Linked DNA regions of Homo sapiens. The protein of the gene in region 5 purifies or fractionates together with the protein of the main gene of each other region. This does not show direct contact. Each region holds a gene or a part of one and is shown on either strand. Other genes may lie near its edges.

The links.
Region 1: the proteins of GPN1 (region 5) and POLR1B purify together in Homo sapiens (affinity purification with mass spectrometry; one large-scale study listed by BioGRID and IntAct). This does not show direct contact.
Region 2: the proteins of GPN1 (region 5) and POLR1E purify together in Homo sapiens (affinity purification with mass spectrometry; one large-scale study listed by BioGRID and IntAct). This does not show direct contact.
Region 3: the proteins of GPN1 (region 5) and TMEM183A purify together in Homo sapiens (affinity purification with mass spectrometry; one large-scale study listed by BioGRID and IntAct). This does not show direct contact.
Region 4: the proteins of GPN1 (region 5) and LRRC20 purify together in Homo sapiens (affinity purification with mass spectrometry; one large-scale study listed by BioGRID and IntAct). This does not show direct contact.
Region 6: the proteins of GPN1 (region 5) and ZNF627 purify together in Homo sapiens (co-immunoprecipitation; one large-scale study listed by IntAct). This does not show direct contact.
Region 7: the proteins of GPN1 (region 5) and URI1 purify together in Homo sapiens (affinity purification with mass spectrometry, with the first as the bait; one large-scale study listed by BioGRID). This does not show direct contact.

The regions. Positions count from the first base shown.
Region 1 is NC_000002.12:112,548,965-112,552,464, reverse strand, and holds part of POLR1B (DNA-directed RNA polymerase I subunit RPA2), read right to left. Parts: intron 3,199-3,500; coding exon 3,066-3,198; intron 1,600-3,065; coding exon 1,463-1,599; intron 691-1,462; coding exon 467-690; intron 1-466. UniProt on the Homo sapiens protein: Catalytic core component of RNA polymerase I (Pol I), a DNA-dependent RNA polymerase which synthesizes ribosomal RNA precursors using the four ribonucleoside triphosphates as substrates.
Region 2 is NC_000009.12:37,492,448-37,495,947, reverse strand, and holds part of POLR1E (DNA-directed RNA polymerase I subunit RPA49), read right to left. Parts: intron 3,292-3,500; coding exon 3,233-3,291; intron 2,390-3,232; coding exon 2,245-2,389; intron 780-2,244; coding exon 672-779; intron 59-671; coding exon 1-58. UniProt on the Homo sapiens protein: Component of RNA polymerase I (Pol I), a DNA-dependent RNA polymerase which synthesizes ribosomal RNA precursors using the four ribonucleoside triphosphates as substrates.
Region 3 is NC_000001.11:203,006,003-203,010,173, reverse strand, and holds the start of TMEM183A (transmembrane protein 183A), read right to left. Parts: upstream 2,801-4,171; 5' UTR 2,709-2,800; coding exon 2,600-2,708; intron 2,544-2,599; exon of another isoform or gene 2,401-2,543; coding exon 2,311-2,400; intron 1,532-2,310; coding exon 1,364-1,531; intron 1-1,363.
Region 4 is NC_000010.11:70,327,126-70,330,625, forward strand, and holds part of LRRC20 (leucine-rich repeat-containing protein 20), read right to left. Parts: intron 1-3,500.
Region 5 is NC_000002.12:27,635,550-27,639,049, reverse strand, and holds part of GPN1 (GPN-loop GTPase 1), read right to left. Parts: intron 841-3,500; coding exon 795-840; intron 166-794; coding exon 19-165; intron 1-18. UniProt on the Homo sapiens protein: Small GTPase required for proper nuclear import of RNA polymerase II (RNAPII). May act at an RNAP assembly step prior to nuclear import.
Region 6 is NC_000019.10:11,600,483-11,603,982, reverse strand, and holds part of ZNF627 (zinc finger protein 627), read right to left. Parts: intron 1-3,500. UniProt on the Homo sapiens protein: May be involved in transcriptional regulation.
Region 7 is NC_000019.10:29,945,239-29,948,738, forward strand, and holds part of URI1 (unconventional prefoldin RPB5 interactor 1), read left to right. Parts: intron 1-3,500. UniProt on the Homo sapiens protein: Involved in gene transcription regulation. Acts as a transcriptional repressor in concert with the corepressor UXT to regulate androgen receptor (AR) transcription.

The DNA.
Region 1 (3,500 bases), about 85 Mb from region 5:
ACTGGACAGCACCAGTATGGAGCTGGCTTCTTTAGTAATTATACAGTGGTTATATAAGACAAAGTCCTTGCTTTGGAGAAATAAAGTGATACAATCCCTGCAACTTTCAGGGATTGTACAGAAAGAAAAATGTACATCTGTGTACACAGAAAGTAAAAAAGTAAATGTAAATGAATGAAATGTTCACAATTAGAATCCAATGTACTATTTGGACATTATTCTGGAAGTCTGAAATTATTTCAAAATAAAAGTTAAAAAGTACTATAAAATAAAACACGACTACTAAAAAAATACAAGTGAGGAGGGCCGCAAAAACAAAGGTAGCCCCCGGCTAGCAAGGACCAGGATTCTACCCCAAGATTCATTCTCATTCCCAAATGACTCGCCCGCCCAAACTGCAACCAATACAAAGAACCACTGACAGCCCTCCGCCCCTCCAAAAACAGTTTAGACAAAGCACACATACTTAAACAGGAACTCCGCAGCTTGCTCATTTGGGTACCAGTCAGGAACATTGAGTTTTACTCTGAAGCATTCACCTAGGTAGTTAAGGACCTGTTTTTGTGTCGAACAACCCTCTTCCATTACAATCCTTAACATCTGAGAAACAGAGTTCCTAAGGAAAGAATCATCCTCTTTTCCTTTGATGAGCTCCTGAAAGATCTGATAATCAGAAAAGCTGACAAGTGCCTAGAATAGAAAATAAAAGGTTTAATTGCTCACTAATAACTAAAATACTTTATCTATTCACTAATAATTATCTTCTCTCATTTTTTTAATACCCAAGGAAAATTAGCACTCTGCTATTGCTGAATCAAAGTAAACTCTCTAAAATAAAGCATTCTTTGTATGATAGCCAGACAGCACAATTGCCTCCAGGGTCCTCATCTCCTGGTGTTCACAAACGTGTAGTTTCCTCCCATGCCGAATCAAGGCTGGCCTGCTTGACCAAGAGAATGTGGTGAAAAAGATAATGGGAGACTCCCAGGGCTAGATCACAAAGGGCACTGCAGCTTTTTCCTTCTGCATCTTCTGCTCTCTGTTCTCTCAGCTAACTATATGGAGGAAGACAGTTGCCTCAAGCAGCCTACAGAAAGGGCCATGTAGAGAGCAACCCCATGAGGAGACCTCCTGCCACCAACCAGCAGATTTGCCAGCCATGTGAGTGAGCCACCTTGGAAGTCCTGAAAATGACTGCAGTCCTGTCTGACATCTCCATGCAACCTCCTGAGACCCTGGGCCACAAGTGCCCAGCCAAAGCACTCCCAAACTCCCGACCCGCAGAAACTGTGAGACAGAAATGTTATTGAGTTTTAAGCTATTGAATTTTGACGTAATTTGTTTTGGAGCAGTAGACAACTAGTACAGTATTATTTTAACAAGGAGAATCCATCCAATGTGCACAGGATACTACCCCCAGTGAATTTCTTCATAACAAAAGAATGCATTCATTAAGTCATACCTTAAGTGCAAATCCCAAAGGAAGAAAGAACAGTTCTTTTCGGTAAATAAAGTTCAACATAACAGTGCCATTTTCCAAGTAGTGGAGGTTCATATTGACAGCGGAATGTTCTTCCCTCACACAGTGCATTGAAACTCCTATTGAACCAAACAACAAAAAAATCAGAAACTCATTGATATCTTAATTGCTTCAACCATTTTCTTTCTGAACAATCTTAACCTCTTAGACACAATTAAAGCCAAATCACTAAGTTTAGCCAAGACTGGCAATCAAAAATGTTTCTAAACCTCAGCAAATGTCCTCTTGCATGCAAAATCTACCCAGATTGAGAAACACTAATGTAAAATAACCGAAACTATGAATTTAAGCAAACTTCAAAGTTTCCCTCCAGGACAGAGTCCACATCTTTTAGCACTTTATATCTGCCTTAAACTGTGGAGTCTGGTCAAGACATGGTGCTTGATCTAATAGTTCCAATGGAGAAAAGTAGAATTTTAGATTTTATTTCAGTTTCAGGCAAAGACTGCTAAGACATACTACCATCAACTGATGCAAAAGAAAATCACTAGACATTCAGGCATGCTGTTTTTCTAGGTATAGTATGTATGGCTATAATTAAGGTCTGATTTTTAGCTCAACTATCAGGACAAATTGTTTAACTGTCAGGGTTGCTCAAGAATACAACATGCTGTCTTAGGCATTGTCAAAGAGAATGTTCCAACAGAGGCCAGGTGGCTGTCAGACAGAGACCCTGAGGGGTGTACCACAGTGGCCTGAACCAGAAGACATCCAAGGCCCACATTCACCTATGGCCAAGCCAGACTAGCTTCCATCTTCATAAGTAGTAACAAAAATACACATGCTCTTTCAGTTTGCAAAAGTGCAGCAGCCTGAACCAGAAGACAGCCAAGACCCACACCCACTTATGGCCAAGCCAGACTAGCTTTCATCTTCATAAGTAGTAACAAAAATACACATGCTCTTTCAGTTAGCAAAAGTGAATTTTAAAATGCTTATGATTGATAAAAATCATATATATTCAAGGTGTACAATACCTTGAATATACATATACATATATTATAATGATTTCCACAATCAAACTGATGAAAACATCAATCACCATAGTTATCATTTGTAGTACGTGTGCACGCGTGTGTGGTTGAGACACTTAAAATGTACTCATCAATTTTAAGCAGTACAGTATTACTATCATCACCAGGCTGTACATCAGATCCCCAGAACTTATTCATCTTGTAACTGCAAGTCTGTATCCTCTGACTAACATCTCTCCATTTCTTCTTCCATCCCAATTATGAAAACTTAACACAAGAATGCTCAATAGAAAAACAACAAAAAACAAAAGAAAGACCAGACACGGTGGCTCATGCATGTAATCTCAGCACTTTGGGAGGCTGAGGCAGAAGGACTGCTTGAGCCCAAGAGTTCGAGATCAGCCTGGGCAACGTGGTGAAACCCCATCCCTACCAAAAAAAAAAAAAAAAAGAAACAAAAATATCAAAGACCATTTGGATGCATCTACTTCAAAAAAAAAAAAAGTTTTAAATTTTCCTTAAAAAATATTCTAATAATCTCCAGAACTTACCATACTGAGTATAACCAGGCCCTCTGGTTTTCCATTTTGGTCTTATCATTGCAATGGGAAAATTTCTCCGAGGCATAATCAACATTCGGATGACTTTTTCAATGCCATTGATTATAAAATAGCCCCCCATTTCCTGCCAAAAAGATGAATTGCAACTTGTTAAACAAAGATACATGACTAACTGTAAACATGAACCTCACTCCTAGCCAAAGGTAGTACAACACACAGAATAGGAACACAGAGGTGAAATGTACTACTGATCCCTTGAAAACAGTACACAGACACTGTCTTTGTGTGAATTAACAGTTTTCTCAAGTATATTACAAAGGTCCTAGGGACATGGGAAAAAAGTATGGAAGAAAAACAGGGTACTTCTCTTTATCAGACAGGCTCAACCTATCTTGCCTTTCTGTCCCCTAAAATGACTTCAGTCTT
Region 2 (3,500 bases), on a different chromosome or scaffold from region 5:
ACGTTCCTGAAAGCTTCAGATGGGCTCTGAAGAGCTTCATACTCCGCAGGGGAAAGAACTAGTTACAGGTCAAGAATATAATCCAACCAAAATAGAAACATCCAACTAGCTAGGTCATCTCATAGCAGTGGCATTTCACAGACAGGGAAACAGGCTCAGAGAGCCAAAGATCACACAGGGCAGATCACATAGGGGCAGAGCTTGGTGACTCAGTTCTCCGACTCCCAGCCCAGAGCCCATTCCCTGCCCAGGCTTTTCTGCTTTTTCTCATCACAAAGCCACTGCAGGCATTTTCCTTCTGACCGGACCCCTTGGGTGGTGAAATTCTAAGCTCCAACCCTTCCTTCAACAAAAGTGGTCTGCCCTAGACTTTGGGCATTTGGCTGGTTCAACTCTTATTTTGACTCTCCATGGAGAGTGAGCCCCACAGGTCTAAGCTGTGGGCATTTGGCATTTTGCTGAGGAATGGATTTGAATCCCAGGGGCCGGTCCCTCAGCTAGTGAGGAAGCCAAGTTAACCTCCTGGCAAGAGCACTGAGCAACTGCAAAGGTTTGGATGGAGCTCTTGTGAATGTCACAGAACACAGACACCCTCAGAGAACCTGACTGCACACACGTGCAAACATCTCAACTTGTGAAATAAGGCAGCTTTTCTACTGCAAGAAGGATACGATCTTCAAATTTATACACGTCTTCAGGCTTGGCTGCATCATCATAGCAGGGAGGAAGGTAGAGGGAGTCATCTTGCAAGTCATTGTGGATAGCATCGCTGACCAGAGCTTTTCAATAAAGAAACAATCCATGTATCACCCTGTTTGTTTCCAGTTCCCCAACATTCTTTTCAGTCTGTGCACTTCAGACCACCAATGGTCCAGAAACCCCAAGTCTAAATGCTTCTGCCAAAGTGACCTCGCCTCCCCATCAGGCTGACTGCTTCAGGACTGCCATGTTCACTCATGAACAAACACAAGCTAGGCACTGGAGAAGGTGGAGGTGACAAGATTCCCCTCAGGTAACTTACAATAGAGTTGGGATTGACAGCTGTGCTAATACATAAACATTTACAATATAAAATGAGAGAAACTAAAAGTGAGGGACGTCCAAAATAGCCTTTAATGGCTTAACTTCTAGAAAAACTTGCCACACATTGTAGGTGGAACAAAACTTTCAGAATATAACACTGTAACTGCCCCACAAGAATAACTCCGCAGCCAGGTGTGGTGGCTCACACCTGTAACCTCAACATTTTGGAAGGCCAAGGCGGGAGGATGGCTTGAGCCCAGAAGTTTGAGACCAGCCCAGGCAACATGGCAAGACCCTGTCTCTCCAAAAAACTAAAAAAATTAGCTGAGCATGGTGGCACACATCTGTGATCCCAGCCACTTGGGAGGCTGAAGTAGGAGGATCACTTGAGCCCAGGAGGTTATGGCTGCAGTGAGCCATGTCTGCACCACTGCACTCTAGTCTGGGTGATAGAGCAAGACCCCATCTCCAATCAATCAATAAATAAATTTGTGAAAGTGTTGAAATCTATATAATCATAGGGTATGGAAAGATTTTCCAAAAATTACTAGAATTTCATTCTTAATAGAAAAACTGCTCTGCCCAGGGCACAGTGGTGTGCGCCTATAATCCTAGCTACCTGGGAGGCTGAGGCGGGAGGACTGCTTGAAGCCAAGGGTTCAAGATCAGCCTGGGCAACATAGCAAGACCTCATCTCCAAAATCGGTAAAAAGAAAAGCTACTCTTACACAAACTTGCTCTTATGTTCTTATAATGTATTTGAACAATAAATACATTTTAAAATAATACAATTAAATACTCCAGCTGCTGAATACCGGAAACAGAGCCACTGATCCCAAAGTGAAATGCCACCTCTGGAGGCTCATTTCCATCAACACATCAGCCTTTTTGACCAAAGCTTCCCTGCAACGCACAAGGAGAGACCTGAGGCCTTCTCCCTCCTCTGTGCCCTGCAGGCCATAACCCCAGCACCATAAGCACGGCAGGCATGTATCCATTCCATGCCTGTCCCTGTACTTGACTGTGGATCACTAGAAGACAAAGCCATGTCGGATGTTTCTTACTACTTCCAGAACCTGTCCGTGAGAAGGCCTTCAGCAAGAGGCTGAAAGGAATCCAGCCCTAGCTCCCAGCATTCCATGTGTGGGTGGGTAAAAGATCTCAAGAGAAGAGAAAGCTGTCATTATGGGCAGACTCTTAGCCCAAGTTCCAACTTCTTACCAGTCACACCCTTCGTATCAATGATAGTCTCTGCAGCTTTAGCCACTGCACGATTCAAAGATTCATTGCCAACTCTGTTCATTCTCCTGGTGTTCAGAGCTCGCTTCTGTTTGGTGGTACCAAAGGCTTCAATACAAGAATCCATCTGTTTATGAGATAAACCTGGTTACTGGGGACAGGACAGGTAGGTGCTGCCCCTCCTAGCTGTGTCACTATGGGGATACTCTCAGCATCCCAGAGTGATCACTACCTCACCTGTGAATAAGGCTGAATCGCACCTATTTACCTCACAGGACTGCTGTAAGCACCAAATGATATTAACAGATTGATCAATCAACAGCATCTCCATCAGTAAGATATAAAGACTTGACTAGGATTAGGGCTGGCAAATCTGTAGCACATGGCTTACCATTCTCCCATCCTATGCCCGTAACAGACAGGAATAGTAGAATGGTAATTCTCCCATCTTACACCCGTAACAGACAGGGCTAATAGATCACTGACTCCTTCCCCCTGAAGCAAAAAGTAGCCTCACAACCCTTCTCAATACAGTGCTCCACACAGCACCAAAGATTCAATCAGTTTGTCATCTTGGGGTGAGATGACCTTTGTAGGGACCTTCTACATTGAAAATCCCCAAGTTTACTTTGTTTTAACGTGAATGTTTTCAGGCTACAACCAATATATTCTAAAACTTGGACTAAATCCTAAAAACAAGCATTATGCTACACTTGTATCAGCCCAGAGAACCGACTCCAAACATTGGCACAGAGCTGTGTTCAGCTGCCCCAGATGGGAGCCAGACTGTTCTCTGTGGGACCAAGGAGGCTTCTGCAGGTACAAACTAATTGTCCAGAGAAACAGACTGAATGAGCGGGGAGCAGCCAGGGAGACCCTTGAGTTCAACAAGCTCATTTCACTGATGGAGAAACCCGAGGTGTAGAAGGAACTTGCTTAAGGTCCCACATCTTAATTCTATCACACTCACCTTTTCTCTGTAAGTTTTGGTCTGACTCTCTAGCGCCAGTTCACTCTCAACTGATACATCTATCAAAACACACAAAAACAGAGAGAAAGAAAAGTCAATTGGGAGGCCTACAAATAGTAATAGTGTTTAATATTCATTTGTCTATCTAAGAATAATAGATTTCTTTACTATAGGACTTCCCTGAGCCTAACATGAGTGTATACTGTGAATATTTAATATGCAGCTTTAGTATACAGTTAAAGAACTTGGAAAATAAATTAGCCAAATC
Region 3 (4,171 bases), on a different chromosome or scaffold from region 5:
ACATCATTTACTATTATTTTTTTCTTTTTTTTTTTGAGACAGAGTCTTGCTCTGTCACCAGGCTGGAGATGTGGTGGTGCAATGCAATCTCGGCTCACTGCTACCTTCGCCTCCCAGGTTCAAGCGATTCTCCTGCCTCAGCCTCCCTGGTAGCTGGGACTACAGGTGCACACCACCACGCCCAGCTAATTTTTGTATTTTTAGTAAAGACAGGGTTTCACCATAATGGCCAGGATGGTCTCGAACTCCTGACCTTGTGATCTGCCCACCTCAGCCTCCCAAAGTGTTGGGATTACAAGCGTGAGCCACCATGCCTGGCCTCACCATTATTTATCGGCTTTCACCTAAACGTAGCTGATCATCAGAACCACTTTAGCTTTAAAAATTCTGGGCTAAGCATGGTAGCTTATGCCTGTAATCTCAGCACTTTGGGAGGCCAAGGTGGGTGGACTGCTTGAGCCCAGGAGCTCAAATCTAGCCTAGGCAACATAGTGAGACCCCTGTCTCTACAAAAAATAGAAAAAATTAGCAGGCATGATGGCATAGCACCTGTAGTCCCAGCTACTCAAAAGGCTAAGATGGGGGGATCGCTTAAGCCTGGGAAGTCAAGGCTGCAGTGTGCCATGATCTTTCCACTACACTCCAGCCCAGGCAAGAGACCAAAACCCTGTCTCAAAAAAATAAATAAATAAAAATTCTGAGTTCCACCCCAAGAGATTCTGACTCATTAAGTCTGAAGGAAAACCCAGAATCTGAATGATGGTTTGGCACGTTATATTATCATCAGTTTATTATTCTTTGTTTCATTTGTGTACATTTCATTGCCATTAGGATATAAAAAAATCACCTACTTTTCTATTTCCCACAATACTTATTAGACATAAAGCAGACATTACTAATTGCAGAGCACTTAAAAGCCCACGATAATGTCTATGTTTGTGTGTAACAAAACTAGTTAACGTAAAATCCACATACTTTGGAAAACATTTTTTGGTTACATCTCTGCTTCCTTACACATTCAGAAATCCAGAAATGCAAAGGCCTTTTATTTTCACATTGCCTTATGGGTTTTTACCTGATAATAACATGTTCTCAATGAAGGGCTACTAGAGTCCAGTTCACAGCTCCAGAACTCTACTAACACGTACTAATCTCTTTCCCTCTCGAATTCAGACAAAAGAAAAAAGAAAGCCCAGGTGTATTAAATCCCGGCCCACTACCAAGGTTCTTAGGGAGAGCCAAGTTTTCTTTAAACTCTCCTGGTATCACGTCTTATATCTCCTCCTGTGCTACTGGGAAAGTAACATCTTCAATTTGTCACCACAGGCAGGTCTAATAAACCAAAAGAGAACAAGCTCCATACCTTTGTGTCTCTTGCTTTTCTTTTTTCTGGAGACAGTTCTCTCATGGATGCTTTCCTCCTGGGCATCCATCTCATCACTGCTGTCGATGATGTCACAGGGCTCACCAGCCCCAGAAAGAGCTTCCTCTGCAGGAACCTGAGAGGCTTCCAAGCCACAAAGAGATTTTACTAGAAGAAAATAAAAGGAGAATGAGATGGCACACAGCTCCACCCAGAAATACAAACAACTTAGCCAAGGTATCAGCATCCATTCAGGAAAGGGGGGAAAAAAAACATCGTTGAGAGAGAAAGGTGAGAATCTGTCACCAAAAAAAATAAAGATTTTAGTATTTTAAATACAAAAAAAAAAAAAAAAAAGGAAAGCAATGGGCAAACTGACTCCAAAGTTGCAGAAACTCCTTTTTTCAGCCCTGAAGAAAAAAGGTGTGTACAATTTTTCCACTATAAACCCTGCAGGATAAAAGCTGATTTGTATTCTCATAAGGTCTACAGAGAAATGTTTGAGACAAATTGAATCCAATTTAATCCTGGTCCTGAGCTGGAGGCAGTAGGTGTCATAAAACACAAGTCTCAGACCCATGAGTAAACAGACTGAAAGCAAGAGAAACACCAGAAAAGGAAAAGAACACTCCAAGGTTATTAAACAAGGAAGCAAACTGCAGAGTAAAACATGTGAACTACAGCAAAGAGATTAATAACCAAGAAGAATGCAGTGGAAACTAAAAAGTATGCAAACATGTTTTTAAATGCAAAGAAAGAAAGAAAATATTTCTGCTACAGAAACTGCTACTCTTGACTAATCCTCCTCCACCCCAATATGTAAGTTAACACTAACGAAAGCAAACACGGTTACAGGAAGACGACTAAAGGACTGCAAGAAAAACAGAAATAAAATACCTAGTTCTGTCTTCGCGGCATGAGTCTTTAAAGGCTCGCGCAAAGCTTACCTTCCTGCTGAACAGCGTTGGCTACGGCTTTCTTGACTCGTCCAGACCTCACGACCGCCGGATCCGAGTTGGCGTAATCCGCCACGGTCACTGCAACACAGCACCAACCCTCAAGGAAGAGGCCTTCTCTCGTCAGCGTCTTCCCCGCCAACACCTCCTCCTCGCTGCAGGCCCCCGGACCGAGCCGCCCTCCAGCCGCGGGCACGCGAGCGCTCACCTCGGCACGGTCCAGCCCCCTCCCAGCCGCCAGCCCCCAAAATGTTTCAGCGCCCCTGCCCCCCTCGCCCACCTCGGCCGGAGCAGGCGTCGTGGGCCCGGAACTTGAGTCGCTTTCCTCTCTTGGGCATGGCGACCGTATCGGGGCGAGGCCTGCCTAGCGGGCCGGGCCCCCGGGCCATGTCTCCGGCCGGAGAGCCGGCCCCGGGAGCCGCAAGCCAGCTCCGCCCGGCTCCGCGGCCATCCCACACCGGAGGCCGCTAACTCTCGCGAGAACATAGGTCCGGGTTCCGAGTCGCGTTGTCGGACGACGCCTCTCCACGCGAACCAATCATCGCCAGGTGCAAGGATACGTCATCATCCGGCACCCGCGAATCAAGCTGGGTCCGGGTTCCAGGTGGAGAGAGAGCTGTTGTACTGGGTGGTGTCGCGTATCGCCGTACCTCGTGTGAGATGAATGGTGTCTCAGAACCATAGCCCACACCTGTGTTGATTAGAATTGAGAGTTTACATCCTGGTCTCCGGGATTCTTCTTAGTAACTCCTCTGTCCACACTCCAGGTCCACTTCAGCACCAAAATGCATATACACTGTCATCTTCGTGCTCTATCTCGGACCACAGAGACTGAGCGCCTGCTAGTCTAACATAGGTCTGTAAGAGTCTTCACTCTATTTTACGAAAGCTATAAATAAATTTCTGAATTCTCAAAATAGGAGAAGGAGTTCTTAAAAGCTTCCAATCGGCCGGGCGCGGTGGCTCACGCCCCTAATCCCAGTACTTTGGAAGGCCGAGGCGGGCGGATCACGAGGTCAGGAGATCGAGACCATCCTGGCTAACACGGTGAAACCCCGTCTCTACTAAAAATACAAAATATTAGCCGGGCGTGGTGGCGGGCGCCTGTAGTCCCAGCTACTCGGGAGGCTGAGGCGGAAGAATGGCATGAACCCGGGAGGCGGAGCTTGCAGTGAGCTGAGATCGGGTCACTGCACTCCAGCCTGGGCGACAGAGCAAGACTCCGTCTCAAAAAAAAAAAAGTTTCCAATCTATCACCATATAAGGTTAGCCGAGAGAAAGGACGAAAGAGAGACCCAAGGTCAGCCGAGGAAGTTTATTAACCTGACGGCTGCTCCACCACAGACAGAGGAGGCACCCCTGAGCTTACAAAATGAGGGGTTTATATGGGGGAGAGAGACCCTGGGGTTGTTTGCTGGTTAATTTTGCCACATATTAGCTTGTGACGTTTATTACAGGAGGGTGTAGGTAAAGTTTGTTTATGCTTCCCATCACCTTCCCCTGTGCGGTCCGGATGATTTGTAATTGGGGTTTGTTTATTGCAGCAAGGTCTGATAAGTGAAGTCTGCTGGCTTCATAAGGACTTAGAAGTGTAAAGAGGCTTGGGGGAAGGAGAAGAGTTGCAGAGCATTAGGGGGAGGAGTGAGCAGCACGGAGAGGTTTGGGGGAAGTGTCGGCAGTACCAAGAAGCTTTTTGGGGCAGTTTGTTCCTAACACACCATACCTCCAAAAAACTACTAGAAGCATCCATGAAAAACTATCGCAGAGGCAGGAAGGTCACTTGAGTCCAGGAGGTCAAGGCTGCAGTGGGCCATGATTGCGCCACTGCACTCCAGCCTGGGCTACAGAGCGA
Region 4 (3,500 bases), on a different chromosome or scaffold from region 5:
ATGCGGCCGTGGAAGCTAATGTGGGGGCTGTGATGGTTAATTTTATTTATCAACTTGAGTAGGCTAAGGGATGCCCAGACAGCTGGTCAAACATGATTTCTGGATGTTCTGTGAGGTTTTCTGGAGGATATCAGCAGTTAAATCAGTGGACTGAGTAAAAAGATCTCAGCCAGGCTCAGTGGCTCACGCCTGTAATCCCAGCAGTTTGGGAGGCTGAGGCAGACGGATCACTTGAGATCAAGAGTTCGAGACCAGCCTGGCCAACATGGTGAAACCCCATCTCTATTAAAAATACAAAAATGAGTCAGGCAGGGTGGCACGTGCCTGTAATCCCAGCTTCTTGAGAGGCTGAGGCACAAGAATCCGAGGCACGAGAATCCCAGGAGGCAGAGGTTGCAGTAGCTGAGATCGCACCACTGCACTCCAGCCTGGGCTACAAAGTGAGACTCTATCTAAAAAAAAAAAAAAAGTAATAATGATAACTAACGCTTATTACTATGCTAATAGAGCACTACTACATTCGAGGCACTTGTTCTGGGGATTTACATGTAATCATCATTGTGATTTTTCTCTAACCCATTACCATCAATTTACAAAGAGGTGAAATAACTTGCCCAAGGTCACAGAAACCCCAACCTCTCCCCAAGGTATGTGACGTTCCTCTCCCAACCCCCAAACCAGGATGTGAACCCCAGCCAGCCGTGTCCAGAGCCTGACTCCTCATCTCGTCCATCACTGTCCTGTCTCATGGGCTCTGCATTTGTCCCCTCCCTAAGAGAAGCAGGCCACGCTGGCACCTCACTTCATCCAGTTTTACACGCCTAATCCCTTCAATACCTGTTCTCAGAATACATAACCATTAAATCCTTGCTTGTTCAGTGGCCAAAGAATGACAAGAGGAGAACCAGGAAGGACCTGGTTATGTTCCAACTCATCAGGTGTCCTTGGGCCCATCCTCTCTCCAGGTGGCCTCATGAGAAGGTCTTTCCTGCCTATTTATCGCAGGCTGTGATGATGAGCTAAGAGGGCTGTGAAAGGCAGGATGAGCTACACAAGTCACATATTTACTAAGCACCTACTATATGCTCAGCCTAATCACATATTTACTAAGCACCTACTATATGCTCAGCCTTGTAACTGAATGTAAAAAGGGTAATCTTTGTTTTTTGTTTTTTGGCGTTTTTTTTTTGAGATGGAGTTTTGCTCTTTCGCCCAGGCTGGAGTGCAGTGGTGTGATCTTGGCTCACTGCAACCTCCGCTCCCTGGGTTCAAGCAATTCTCCTGCCTCAGCCTCCCAAGAAGCTGGGATTATAGGCACCCACCACCACACCCAGCTAATTTCTGGATTTTTACGAGAGACAGGGTTTTGCCATGTTGGCCAGGCTAGTCTCGAACTCCTGACCACAGGTGATACACCCGCCTCGGCCTTCCAAAGTGCTAGGATTACAGGCATGAGCCACCATGCCCGGTCAGAAAAGGGTAATCTTTGAAAATTAAATACACTCAACAAGACCAGGCGCAGTGGCTCATGCCTGTAATCCCAGCACTTTGGGAGGCCAAAGTGGGTGGATCACTTGGGGCCAGGAGTTCAAGACCAGCCTGCACAACATGGTGAAACTCTGTCTCTACTAAAAATACAAAAATCAGCCAGGCATGGCAGTACACAGCTGTAATCCCAGCTACTTGGGAGGCTGAGGCAGGAGAATTACCTGAACCCGGGAGGCGGAGGTTGCAGTGAGCCAAGATCCTGCCACTGCACTCCAGCCTGGGCAACAGAGTGAGAGCGAGACTCTCTTAGAGATAGAAGACACATGACACTTGGTTCCTGGATTATGGAACCTTTGCAGAAACAAAATTCAAAGCCAACATGATAGCAGGAATCAAAAGGGAAAATAAGAGAGGGTCAGTGCAACTGTGACACATGGATTGCAGGAAGCCAGTCAGAGCCAATGATGCCAACACAGTCTCCACTTACTCAAAAAATATTACTCAGCACCTACCACAGGGCAGGCTCTGCTAGACAGCGGGAAATCGTGGCAATGAGACAGACTAGATCCCAACCTTAACAAGCTTACAGACAAGTGCAGGGAGAAATAGTAAACAAGAAAAGAAGGTTATTTCAGATCGCTAGGAAGGCATTTGAGGTCAGAGTGAAAAAAACCAGTTCGGCAAAAAGCCCAGGGAAAAGCTATCTTCTTCTTCTTGTTGTTTTATGGCAGTGGTTAGAACTTTAAGGATGAGAGTGGACATCCTTGCCTTGTTCCCAGCTTGGGGGAAAGGCTTTCATCATCAAGTCTGATGTTAGCTGTAGGATTTTTGAAGATGCTCTTTACCAAGTTGAGGTAGTTTCCCTGTATTTCTAGTGTACTGAGAGTTGGAGTTTGTCAAATGCTTTTTCTTTGTCAAATGATATGATTGTGTGATTCTTCTTTTGCCTTTTTTTTTTTTTTTTTCGAGATGGAGTCTGGCTCTGTCCCCCAGACTGGAGTGCAGTGGCACGATCTCGGCTCACTGCAACTTCTGCCTCCCGGGTTCAAGCGATTCTCCTGTCTCAGCCTCCCGAGTAGCTGGGATTACAGGTGCATGCCGCCACTATGCCCAGCTAATTTTTTGTATTTTACTAGAGACGGGGTTTCCCCATGTTGCCCAGGCTGGTCTCGAACTCCCGAGCTCAGGCAATCCACCAACCTCAGCCTCCCAAAGTGCTGGGATTACAGGCGTGAGCCACCTCGCCCAGCCTAGCCTTTTCATATAATAGATTACACTGATTGATTTCTAAAGTTGGACCCAGACTTGCATACCTGGAATAACTGATAAATCCCACTTACACATGTCATATATTCTTCTTATACATTGCCGAATTTGACTGGTAATATTTTGCTGAGAATCTTTCCATCTGTGTTCTTGGGAGATATTGGTCTGTATTTTCTTTTTCTTTCACATTTTTTATACTGTCTTTGTCTGCATTTGATATCAGAGTAATATCAACTTCATAGCATGGATTGGGAAGTATGCCCTTCCCTTCTATTTTCTGGAAGAGGCTGTGTAAAATTGATGTTAATTCTCATTTTAAAAGTTTGATAGAATTCTCCAATGCAATCACCTGGGCTTGGAGATTTCTTCTTTGGGATCTTTTTATTTATGAATTCCACTTATTTGATAGTCATAGGTCTCTTCAGGTTGTCTGTTTCATCTTGGCTGAGTTTTAGTGGTTTGTGGTTCTCAAGAACATGGTCCATTTCTTCTAAGTTGCCAAATTTATAAGAATAAAGTTGTTTATAATAAACCTGGTAGGTTTTGAGTGGGAACCAAACCATGGAGCTGCTTCTAGGCCCCCTCCCCAAGGGAGGGCAAAGACAGCAGGTTCCTGGGGATGGATGTCCCACCCCTGTCAGTCACCCACTTGTCCAACCCCTAGGGCTTTATGAATGTCAATGTATGTGCCAAATTCCACCAAAATTGTTAGAGTAAATCTCCAGGTAGCCAAATCTGAGCTCCAT
Region 5 (3,500 bases):
GCAGGAGAGAAAATTTACCCTGAGTGAGCTGTAAAACTCATCTAACACCAGGCTCATTGAACGAGTCAGGTTACTGACGTATGTAGTCTCTTGATTCAAGGCATCTTGGAAAGCCTCAAAATCCTGCATCCATTCCACTGCAAAGCTGTGGTCAATGATGTCAGTCTGTACCAGAGAGAAGTCAATTATGAGCAACCAGAGCCAACAAACGCAAAATTTATTCTTTTAATTAAGTGTTGACAGCAAAGAACATATCATCCATATATTTTCTTTCTCTGCTTCTATTTCCCCTCCATTGCAACAAGCCACAAAGAACCACAATCATTGTGTAGTCAGTGTAATTAAATGAAGATGTGTATTCTCTTGGTTGACCCTCCACTATCCACTGCCAAGTACCAGGACCAGAATGGACACCAGCACATTCTAGGCTCTGAAGTCAAAAGGTCTCTTGCATCCTAGCCATCAACCAACAGAGAAGTTTAGAATTTTTTAATTGCCACTTCCAGTAGACTAGTTGTCCCTCTCGTAATTACACAATCTTGACTCTGAGGGATAATCTACATACTGTGGTTGAAGTGCTACTCTACCTAGCCTAAAATAATTTTAGACAAGAGTTGGTAATAATTGCTCATTCAATTTGATTGATTCATTTTCTCGAAGTGCCTATGAATTTGTTTCAGTAAAGCCTGAATCTGGTCTCCAGCATCTGAAATAATCTTTCTCACCCACCTAAACCTTCTAACCACAAGGTTCTGATGAAAAATGGTGAATCACAACAGGAAGAATACACTTACTTTATTCATGACCACAATGAAAGGCAGCTTGGTTTTGTATAAGATGCTGAAAACCAAACATTGAGAAGTTATTAGTAAAAGCACATAAGCTCTTGCTCATCCAGTGTCAGCATGTCGGGACTAAGTAAGAGAACAGAAATGAGTTCAGAATCTAAAAAGTAGTCATCCATTTTTACATAACATCATATAGTCTCTGCCAACAGGAAAACAACTACCACCCAGAAGCAACACACACACTCTCACTCTTGTTTGAAGTAATAATGCCTTAATATTGAACTTGTTTTTGTTTTGTTTTTTAACCAAATTGGTATTTTTCAGAGAAGGAAATGAACATTTACTGAATACCTATTACAGGTTGAGAATTTCCTATCTAAAATACTTGGGACCAGAAGTGTTTTTTATTTCAGATTTTGGAATATTTGTAAATACTTATTGGTTGAGCATCCCAAATCTGAAAATCCAAAATCCTCCAATAACCATTTCCTCTGAGTGTCATGTCAGTGTCTAGAATGTCTCACATTTTGGAGCATTTCAGATTTCAAATTTTTGGATAAGGGATGCTCAATCTGTATAGTCTAGGCACTGTGCTAATAAGCACTTTCATAAGTATTATCTCCTTTATTCTTTACAAATAACATGTAAATATATACAATTTTTATTTGTCAATTATACCTCAATAAGGCTGGGAAAAGAATATTAAAATTTTTTTCAATCTGTAAAGTAACATCTTAAAAATGTTTCTACCCCTACCTTTATTGAGGTATAGTTGACAAATAAAAATTATATATATTTAAGGTGTACAAAGGGATATTTTGATACACAGTTGACCCTTAAACAACATAGGTTTGAACTGCAAGGTTTACTCATATGCACCTTTTCTTCCACCTCTGCCACCCAGAGACAGCAAAACCCAACCCCTACTCTTAGACTACTCAAAGTGAAGACGATTAGGATGAAGAGTTTTATGACGATCTACTTCACTTAATGAACAGTTAATATATCTTCCCCTTATTTTCTCTAGCTTTATTATATGAATACAGCATATAATACATATAATATATATGTAATGTGTGTTAATCTACTGTTTATGTTACCAGCAAGGTTTCCAATCAACAGTAGGCCTTTAGTAATTAAGTTTGGGGGGAGTCAAAGTTTTATATTTTGTAGAGATGGGGTTTCACCATGGTGCCCCGGCTGGTCTCTGCAGGGGTTGGCGCCTCTAACCCCCAAATTGTTCAAGGATCAACTGTATGTTTCATCATGAAATGATTACCAGCTGGGGGTGTGACTCATGCCTGTAATCTGAGCACTTTGGGAGGCCACGCTGGGAGGACTGCCTGAGCCCACGAGTTCAAAACCAGCCTGGGCAGCATGGCGAGACCCCACCTCTAAAAATAAATTAATTAATTTTTTTAAAAAGAAATGATTAACACTATCAGGCAAATCAAATAATTTTCTTTTAAACAATTAATATGAAAATGGGCCAGGCACAGTGGCTCATGCCTGTATTCCCAGCACTTTGGGAGGCCAAGGCGGGCAGATCACTTGAGGTCAGGAGTTTGAGACCAGCCTGGCCAACAAGGTGAAACCCCGACTCTACTAAAAATACAAAATTAGCCAAGTGTGGTGACTACTCAGGAAGCTGAGGCAGGAGAATCACCTGAACCCAGTAGGCGGAAATTGCAGTACGGTGAGATTGTGCCACTGTACTCCAGCCTGGGTGACAGAGCAAGACTCCGTCTCGAAAAAATATAAATAAATAAATAAATAAATAATTAATATGAAAATGAAATAATGCTGTCAATCTTCAGATTTCTATTTGGATCACAATTTCTTGCATCCACCAAAAAGGGACATCCCTTGTCATATCAGAAAAGACAAATGTTGGTGATGGCATTTGTGTACCCTCAAAATTAAATTCTCTCAGCTTTAATAACTGTCAGCCTTGCTCCTCAGTCTTAATGCACTAATCTAGTGAGGCATGCCCTTCCTCTGCTAATGGTGCCACATTTGGGGCAAACCAGTGCATTTTATTTTTTTGAGACAGGGTCTCACTCTGTTGCCCAGCCTGGAGTACAGTGACATCATCACAGCTCACTCCAACCTTGGCCTCCCAGGCTCAAGCAATCCTTCCACCTCTGCCTCCCAGGTAGCGGGGATTACAGGCACACACCACCATCCCTGGCTAATTTTTTGTATATTTTGTAGAGATGGGGTTTCACCATGGTGCCCAGGCTGGTCTCAAACTCCTGGGCTCAGGCGATCCTCCCACCACAGCCTCCCCAAGTGCTGGGATTATAGGCATGAGCCACCATGCCTGGCCACCTGTGCATTTTACAATTATGGATAAATCTTCTTATTCATGGTATCTCCTCATGTTACAATTTCACTCTACCAGCATCATTTAGGCCAGAGGACTCTATTCTTCTCTCTCTCTCTCGTTGCCCCAGGCTCTTGTTGCCCCAAGCCGGAGTGCAGTGGCACAATCATGGCTCACTACAGCCTCAACCACCTGAGCTCAAGCAATCCTCCCACGTCAGCCTCCCAAGTAGCTGGGACTACAAGGGCGTGCCACCACGCTGGCTAATTTTAAAACATTTTTTGTAGAGACAGAGTCTTGCTATGTTCCCCAGCCTGGTTTCAAACTCCCAAGCTCAAACGATCCTCCCACCTTGGCCTCCCAAGTGTAGGGATGACAGACCCAGC
Region 6 (3,500 bases), on a different chromosome or scaffold from region 5:
AAAAAAAATTAGCCAGATGTGGTGGTGCACACCTGTGGTCCCAGCTACTTGGGAGGCTGAGGCGGCAGGATCACTTGAGCCCTGGAGGTCTAGCCTGCAGTGAGCAGTGATCGCACCACTGCACTCAAGCCTGGGTGACAGAGCAAGACTTCGTCTCTTAAAAAAAAAGAAAAGTAGGGGAAAACAATCACCTGTGGAGGAGAATAAGGAAACTCTAAGTATTATCTGTTCAATTTTTCTGTCAAACTACAACCGGTCTAAAAAATAAAGTTTATTAAGTAAAATAGTGAATAAAATACCATTTCATGGAAGATTCACAGCTATGTGAAATAGACAGATGGCATACAATATAACATATAGGATGATATCACTTCCACAAAAAACAGACAAAAATAAGGCCGGGCGTAGTGGCTCACACCTATAATCCCAACACTTTGGGAGGCATAGCTGGGTGGACTGCTTGAGCCCAGGAGTTCAAGACCAGCTTAGACAGCATGGCAAAACCCCGCCTCCACAAAAAAAAAAAATACAAAAATTAGCTGGTGTGGTACTGTGCACCTGTAGTCCTAGCTTGTTGGGAGACTGAGGTGGGAGAATCACTTGAGCCCGGAGGCAGAGGTTGCGGTGAGCCAAGAGCGCCACTGCACTCCAGCCTGGGCTACACAGTGAGACTCCATCTCAAAAAAAAAAAAAAAAAAGGCTAAGAATAGCCAAGATGTCGTACAAAATACAGTTAGGATTGTTAACAGACTGAATGTTTGTATTCCACCACCATCCCCTGCCCAAACTTTCATTTGCTGAAATCCTAACCCCCAAACTAAATGCAGAAACCAGCATGCGTGAAACAAACAGGCAAAGAAACCAAAAAAAAACTCTTTTTGGCATAATATTAATGGTAATAACTTACTAAAAATTCAAAAGAGGAAGAGCCAAGCAAAATTCAGCCTAATGATAAATAGATGGTAAAACTATGAAGAACCACCTTTTAAAAATGAGGACCTGGTCACCTGTGGGTACAGACGGGAGACAAGATCAGGACATACCAGAAATGCCCAATGCCCATTTATGAACCTGGGTAGTGAGTCCACAGGTGTTTCACACAACCCACTCTCCTCTCCTCACAGTGTGGAAATGCTCCCTCCTCCAGGGTCTCAATTCTCACCAGCGAACACTTACCCAGAGCCAGGTGAAGGTTCTGATCTCTAGTGTCTTTTTTCATATACCATTTCTGACACCAAATGTGTGGTGTTTGCTGAACACAACCAAATCTCCAATTCTCCAACACCAATTAAGCATTCAAATCAATTCTGACACTACCCAGAGTTAACGGGGACCCCACAAGTTCAGGGCTCATTACCATAACAGTGCCCCACTGCAGATGCCAGTCACAAGCCCCAGGGATCACCCATACTTCTCAGCAACTGCATATAAATCAGAAATGGCGAAATGGAAGGGATGGATGTAAGGGAAAATGGCGGCAGAAGATTGGGCAGGTATGTAATCCTGGAAATAGCTATGGTTAAAGAAACTCCCCCGTCTTTTGTATTCTGCAGGAGCAGGTTACGCAAAGAAACACTCTTCTCATTATGACTTAGATGACACTGCTTTTTTACCTATGACAAAGCCATACACAGACTAGAAATTCCCTTTATTTTCCTCACAATTGATTAGCTGAACAGCTCTGTCTTCAGTGATCAGTCAGAACAAAGTACCTGTTAACAAAACTTTGGTTAAGTTTCTCTTCTTCCTCCAGCCCCTGAACTTTGACCCACCCCCAGCCTGAGCCTATATACAACCCCTCTGATGACCCTCCTAAGAAGAGACTGCCTTCAGGATCTAGGTGGGATTTTGCACCCTGCATCCTGCCTTCCACCTCCCACCTTCTTTCTCATCATTTGCTCCTCCCTACAAAAGAAAATCCTTTTCTGCATAAACTCTGAGATGCTTGCAGATTTTTTTTTTTTTTTTTTTTTTTTTGAGACAGAGTCTCACTCTGTCGCCCAGGCTGGAGTGCAGTGGCGCGATCTCGGCTCACTGCAACCTCTGCCTCCTGAGTTCAAGCGATTCTCCTGCCTCAGCCTCCCGAGTAGTTGGGATTACAGGCACGCACCACCATGCCCGGCTAATTTTTGTATTTTTAGTAGAGATGGGGTTTCACTATGTTGGTCAGGCTGGTCTCAAACTCCTAACATTGTGATCCACCCACCTCGGCCTCCCAAAGTGCATGGATTACAGACGTGAGCCACCACGCCCAGCCTGAGATGCTTGAAGATTTTATACTTGGTGCCTTCTCCCCTTTCGATTATCCTTTAGAATAGTCATTCCTGTCTGGTGTGGTGGTGCTCCCCGCCCCACCCCCATAATCCTGGAATTTGGGGAGGCTACGGTGGGAGGATTGCTCGAGGCCAGGAGTTAGAGACCAGTCTGGGCAACATAACAACGTCCTGTCTCTCTTAAAAAAACTTTTTTAAAAATATAAGCCAGGCATCATGGCACATGCCTTTAGTCCTAGGTACTTGGGAGGCTGATGTGAGAGAATTCCTTGAGCCCAGGAGATCAAGGCTACAGTGAGCTATGATCGCACCACTGCACTCCAGCCTAGGAGACAGAGTGAGACCCTGTCACACACAAAAAAAATAAATAAATAAAAATAAAATAAATCACTCCTTACCTAAATCCAGATTTGTTTCATTAGAAACGTCTACAAACAGACCCAAGATAATAGCAAGTACATTCTCAGAAAGGCATCACCTCAACCACCTCTGCCTATGAATCCCCAGCTTTCCAGGGCTCTGAGCTTCTCTCACTATAAAGGGCTCCACCCAAAGTCAGTTGTGAGCAGCTGGGACACTGCAGGGGAGGCTCCTCAGCAAGAACCACTGGGCCTGTAATGTCCTCTCTTTGAAGGCTCAAGATTGGTCTTAGTTTCAAGTCACTAGTCTGCTGTCTCTGTTTCCCAGTCAAGGTTATGCATTTAATTTTCAATGAGAAAATACCCAGGGTTTGAAGATTCCAGTAAAATCACTCAAATTCACTGTTTATAGCAAGGAAGGAAATTGTAAGGCACTTATATTTCATACCTTAACAGGAAAAGTAAAAGTATCCATCCTCTTCAGACAATAAACATGTTATTTATTCTTTCTATGGTAACAAATCATGTACTAAATCATATTGGAACACTTCTAGGAGTTACCAAGTCCTGTCCTACTAGGACTTCGCATTAAACTCTGATGTCTAGATAACAGGAAGAGAACAGTTATCCACTGTCACAAGTTTGCCACCCTGCAAAGCAGAGGAATTGATGTTTTGGTGAATCTCTGTAATTCACCAATTTATTTGCTACACTTACTTGTGGAAATGTATTCATTTTCTGCAGTCATGATAGAAGAGAGTTTTCTCTCTCTCTTTTCCTTAGTATTCCCAACACTAAGCCCTGGAATTCCATTTTAAATCACCACACCCCACCCCCACAAAAAAAAACAACATACTTGAGAAACTTA
Region 7 (3,500 bases), on a different chromosome or scaffold from region 5:
AGGCTTAGGGCATAATCTTCTCTGGGAGCCTTGATTGAGAGGGGCTGGTAGGTAATGTGGCTTAAATGTTGCTCATTAGTTTTGCTCTTTCTTTTTTTCCAAATTCAGCTAAGGAGTATAACAAGTTTTACGCTCTCTCTCTCTTTTTTTCTTGTATGTTCTCTGGAACATGGAATAAAAAGGACAAAAAATTGGCAACCTGAGGAAGAGGACAGACAAGGGGCATGAACAAGCCACAACCTCTAAGTGACAATATCTGTAGTCAGCGGTTAGGATCAAATATTTTAACATTGCTTTCACTTACAGTCAATGGTGAAACATTTCCAAAACAATTTATTTTAGTTAGAACTTCGGTTTGTTTCTATTTTGATCTAGCAATAAAACATGTAAGAAACATTCCCTGCAGCTTTGTTTATAAAGAGAAAAACTAAAAGTCTGACATTGGGGGATTGGTTAAATAAATCAGGAGCTGTTACGTAGGCATTGAAAACTAGGACAGTATGTATAGGGTGGTTCCAGTTACGTTTATATAAATATTTACACATTTTACATAGGAAAACACCATTGTTTTAAAAGTACACAATTTTATTATTTTACCTAAAAGTTTGTAAAATTGGATGGGATTTTTTTTTTTCCAAAAAAAGCTATTGATAAAACTTATTTTAATTTTAACGAAAATTGGAATGTTACTTTAATTGCAAAACACTTTCTGAGCCTGAAAAATGGCTCTTGGCTGGTTTGAATGCCGGTTAGGCAGGTTTATTTCTTGGTTACTTCAGAGCTGATATATATAATTTATTCAAACAACCATCTTCCAGTTGATTTCCTTCCCCCCCCCAAAGGTTTTATTTAATCTTCATTTGTTATAAGATACAGGGAGAGGAGAGAAATTCAGATCATCCTTTTTTTGTCTTTAACTAAATCTGTTTTTACTAACAGCAGTAAAATATTTGTTGGAAAAATGGAAGCTTAACCTGTCTAGACTGTGACCTATACCATAAAATGTGTGGTCTAGGACTGTTGTGGAGTGTCTTGGGCTGTTCAGGGAGGTTTCCTTGTACTAAGATCTTGTTAAATCTGATTCTAAGAATTGCATTATGTTGAAATTTTTGTTTCTTGGCTAAGGTGATGTTTCTGAGATACCTGTATTTTATCTCTAGATACTATTAGCTTTTATTAGCAGAACTACTGAGATTTTATTGTAATATTTTAAAAAGTGGTGGATCCAGTATCGTTTTTATAGGCTTATTTGCAGGATAATAGTAAGATTAGAAAATTCATTAGGATAATATATTTATAATTGAGTGCCTCATGTAGTTCTCACTTGGAATTTTGGAATAGCTTATACTTCCTGATATAGATCCTTGGGGAATTAAATGCATTAAGAGTAAATATTTTAAATTTTTTATAAAGCAGAACAGCTAATTTAACTTAATGGAGGGTTTTCATATTTCTTGTGATAAACTAAACTGCACATAGTTTAAAGAACTGTCAGCCACGTAGGCCATATAACAGCTATTCTTTCCAAGCCTAGAATCCATGCCATAGAATTTATGTAACAAATATTTAATGAGTATCTACTACATGCCAGGCATGTTCTGCTGAGTGTGCAGTAATGAACAAAATACAGCAAGTTCTTTCTTTCATGGTTACACTCTAGGGGTGAAGGCATGCAGTTACATAGCCTTACCTTGGGTGTTTGGTAGGTAAGGCTAAGTAGAAAAACAGGAAGGTAAGAGGCGTGTAGAGAATGAGGGATGTGAGTGGAGGGATGGTGTCTTCTGTAAGCCATCAGAGAGGGCTTCTCTGTTAGGTTCCATTTGAGCAGAAACTTGAAATAAGTGGGGAGTGAGCTGTGTGGATATATGGAGGATATTTTAGAGAAGAGCTTTCTAGCCAGTATGAGAGCAGTACCAGATCATTGTAAGAGTTTTGGTTTTCATATTTGTGAGATGGGAAACGATTGGAATGTGTTTTGAGGCTGATCTTAAATTATATCCATTTGTCATGCATATGTGAAGAAATGGACGGATGGAATTACATTATAGGGAGCAACTCTGTGTGCCACGCATTGTGATAGATGTTTACAGATCCGATCTTAGAATTTTCATTAATACTGTTTATTTTTCAGATGAACAGTTTGTTTCTAGTTTTTGCCTGGAACTTTCTCATGGCGTGTTTGTGTCTTCAGTTCCACTTAGAATGCTTTTTCTAAGGTGGTTATACCAGTTTACCGCTTGCTAGCAGTGGACAGAAGTTCTCCCTGCTTCAGTCTTTACCACCATGTGTCTTTTCATATTTGCTAGCCAATCTAGTGATGAGTAATGAGGTTGATGACCTTTTCAGATGTTTATTGGCTACTTGGATTTTTGTGTTTTGTTTTTGTGAAATACCTGCTCATCTGTTAACTACTTTCTATTGGGATGTTAGTTATATTCTAATTGATTCATAGTAATGACTGCCTTTCCAATTATATATTGTAAGTTTCTTCCCTGGTCTGTGGCTTGACTTGGAGCACTTACAGTGGTGTCTGTCCTTTGATCAACAGACATTTTTAATTTTAACAATTGTTTCCTTCATGGTTAGTGTTTTTTGTCTTATTTTTAAGAGGTCTTTCTTACTACTTTTCTGAAGATATCCTCTTATATTGTCTAATAGAAGCTTTACTGCTTTGCTTTTCACATTGAGAATCTACATTCTACCTGGAATTGGCTTTGTATATGGGGGAGATTGAGGTCAGGTTTCATTTTTACTGTATGGATACCTAGTTGTCCCATCAGCATTTATTGGAAAGAGTGTCATGTCTCCACCGCATTGTCATCTTTGTCATAAATCAGGTGACTGTGTAAGTAGATCAGTTTCTTGACTGTTCTGTTGGCTTGTCTGTTCTTGCAGCAAACCTACACTGTCTAAATCATTATGACTTTGTGTTATCTTGGTACCTGGTACATGGTGGTGTAGTTTTAGTTGTGGTTCCTCAAGATTGCCTTTATTTTCTCCTTTCCAGTCCGTATGCTGTTTCTTTCTTTTTCTTGCTTTTGATACTGGCCAGTTCAAGTGCTGGTAGTGGGCATCAGGGGTCAACTTTTAAACATTTACCATTAAGTGTGGTATTTACTGTGAGTAATTTTTGTATTTGCTTTTATCAGATTAAGGAAATTTCCTTATATTCCAAGTTTGCTATGAGTTTTTATGAGTGGGTGTTGAATTTTAGAAATGCTTTTTCTAAATTGATTTAATTATGGTAATTTATTGAAAAGAGTATATTTGTTCTGTAAGTTCTGTAACTTCAATAAGTAATGTTGAAGTTACTTTTTTTTGCCTTCAAGCATCTGTTTAACAAAGCACATCTTGCACCACCCTTAATCCATTTAACCCTGAGTGGACACAGCACATGTTTCAGAGAGCACGGGGCTGGGGGTAAGGTTATAGATTAACAGCATCCCAAGGCAGAAGAATTTTTCTTAGTACAGAACAAAATGTAGTCTCCTATGTCTACT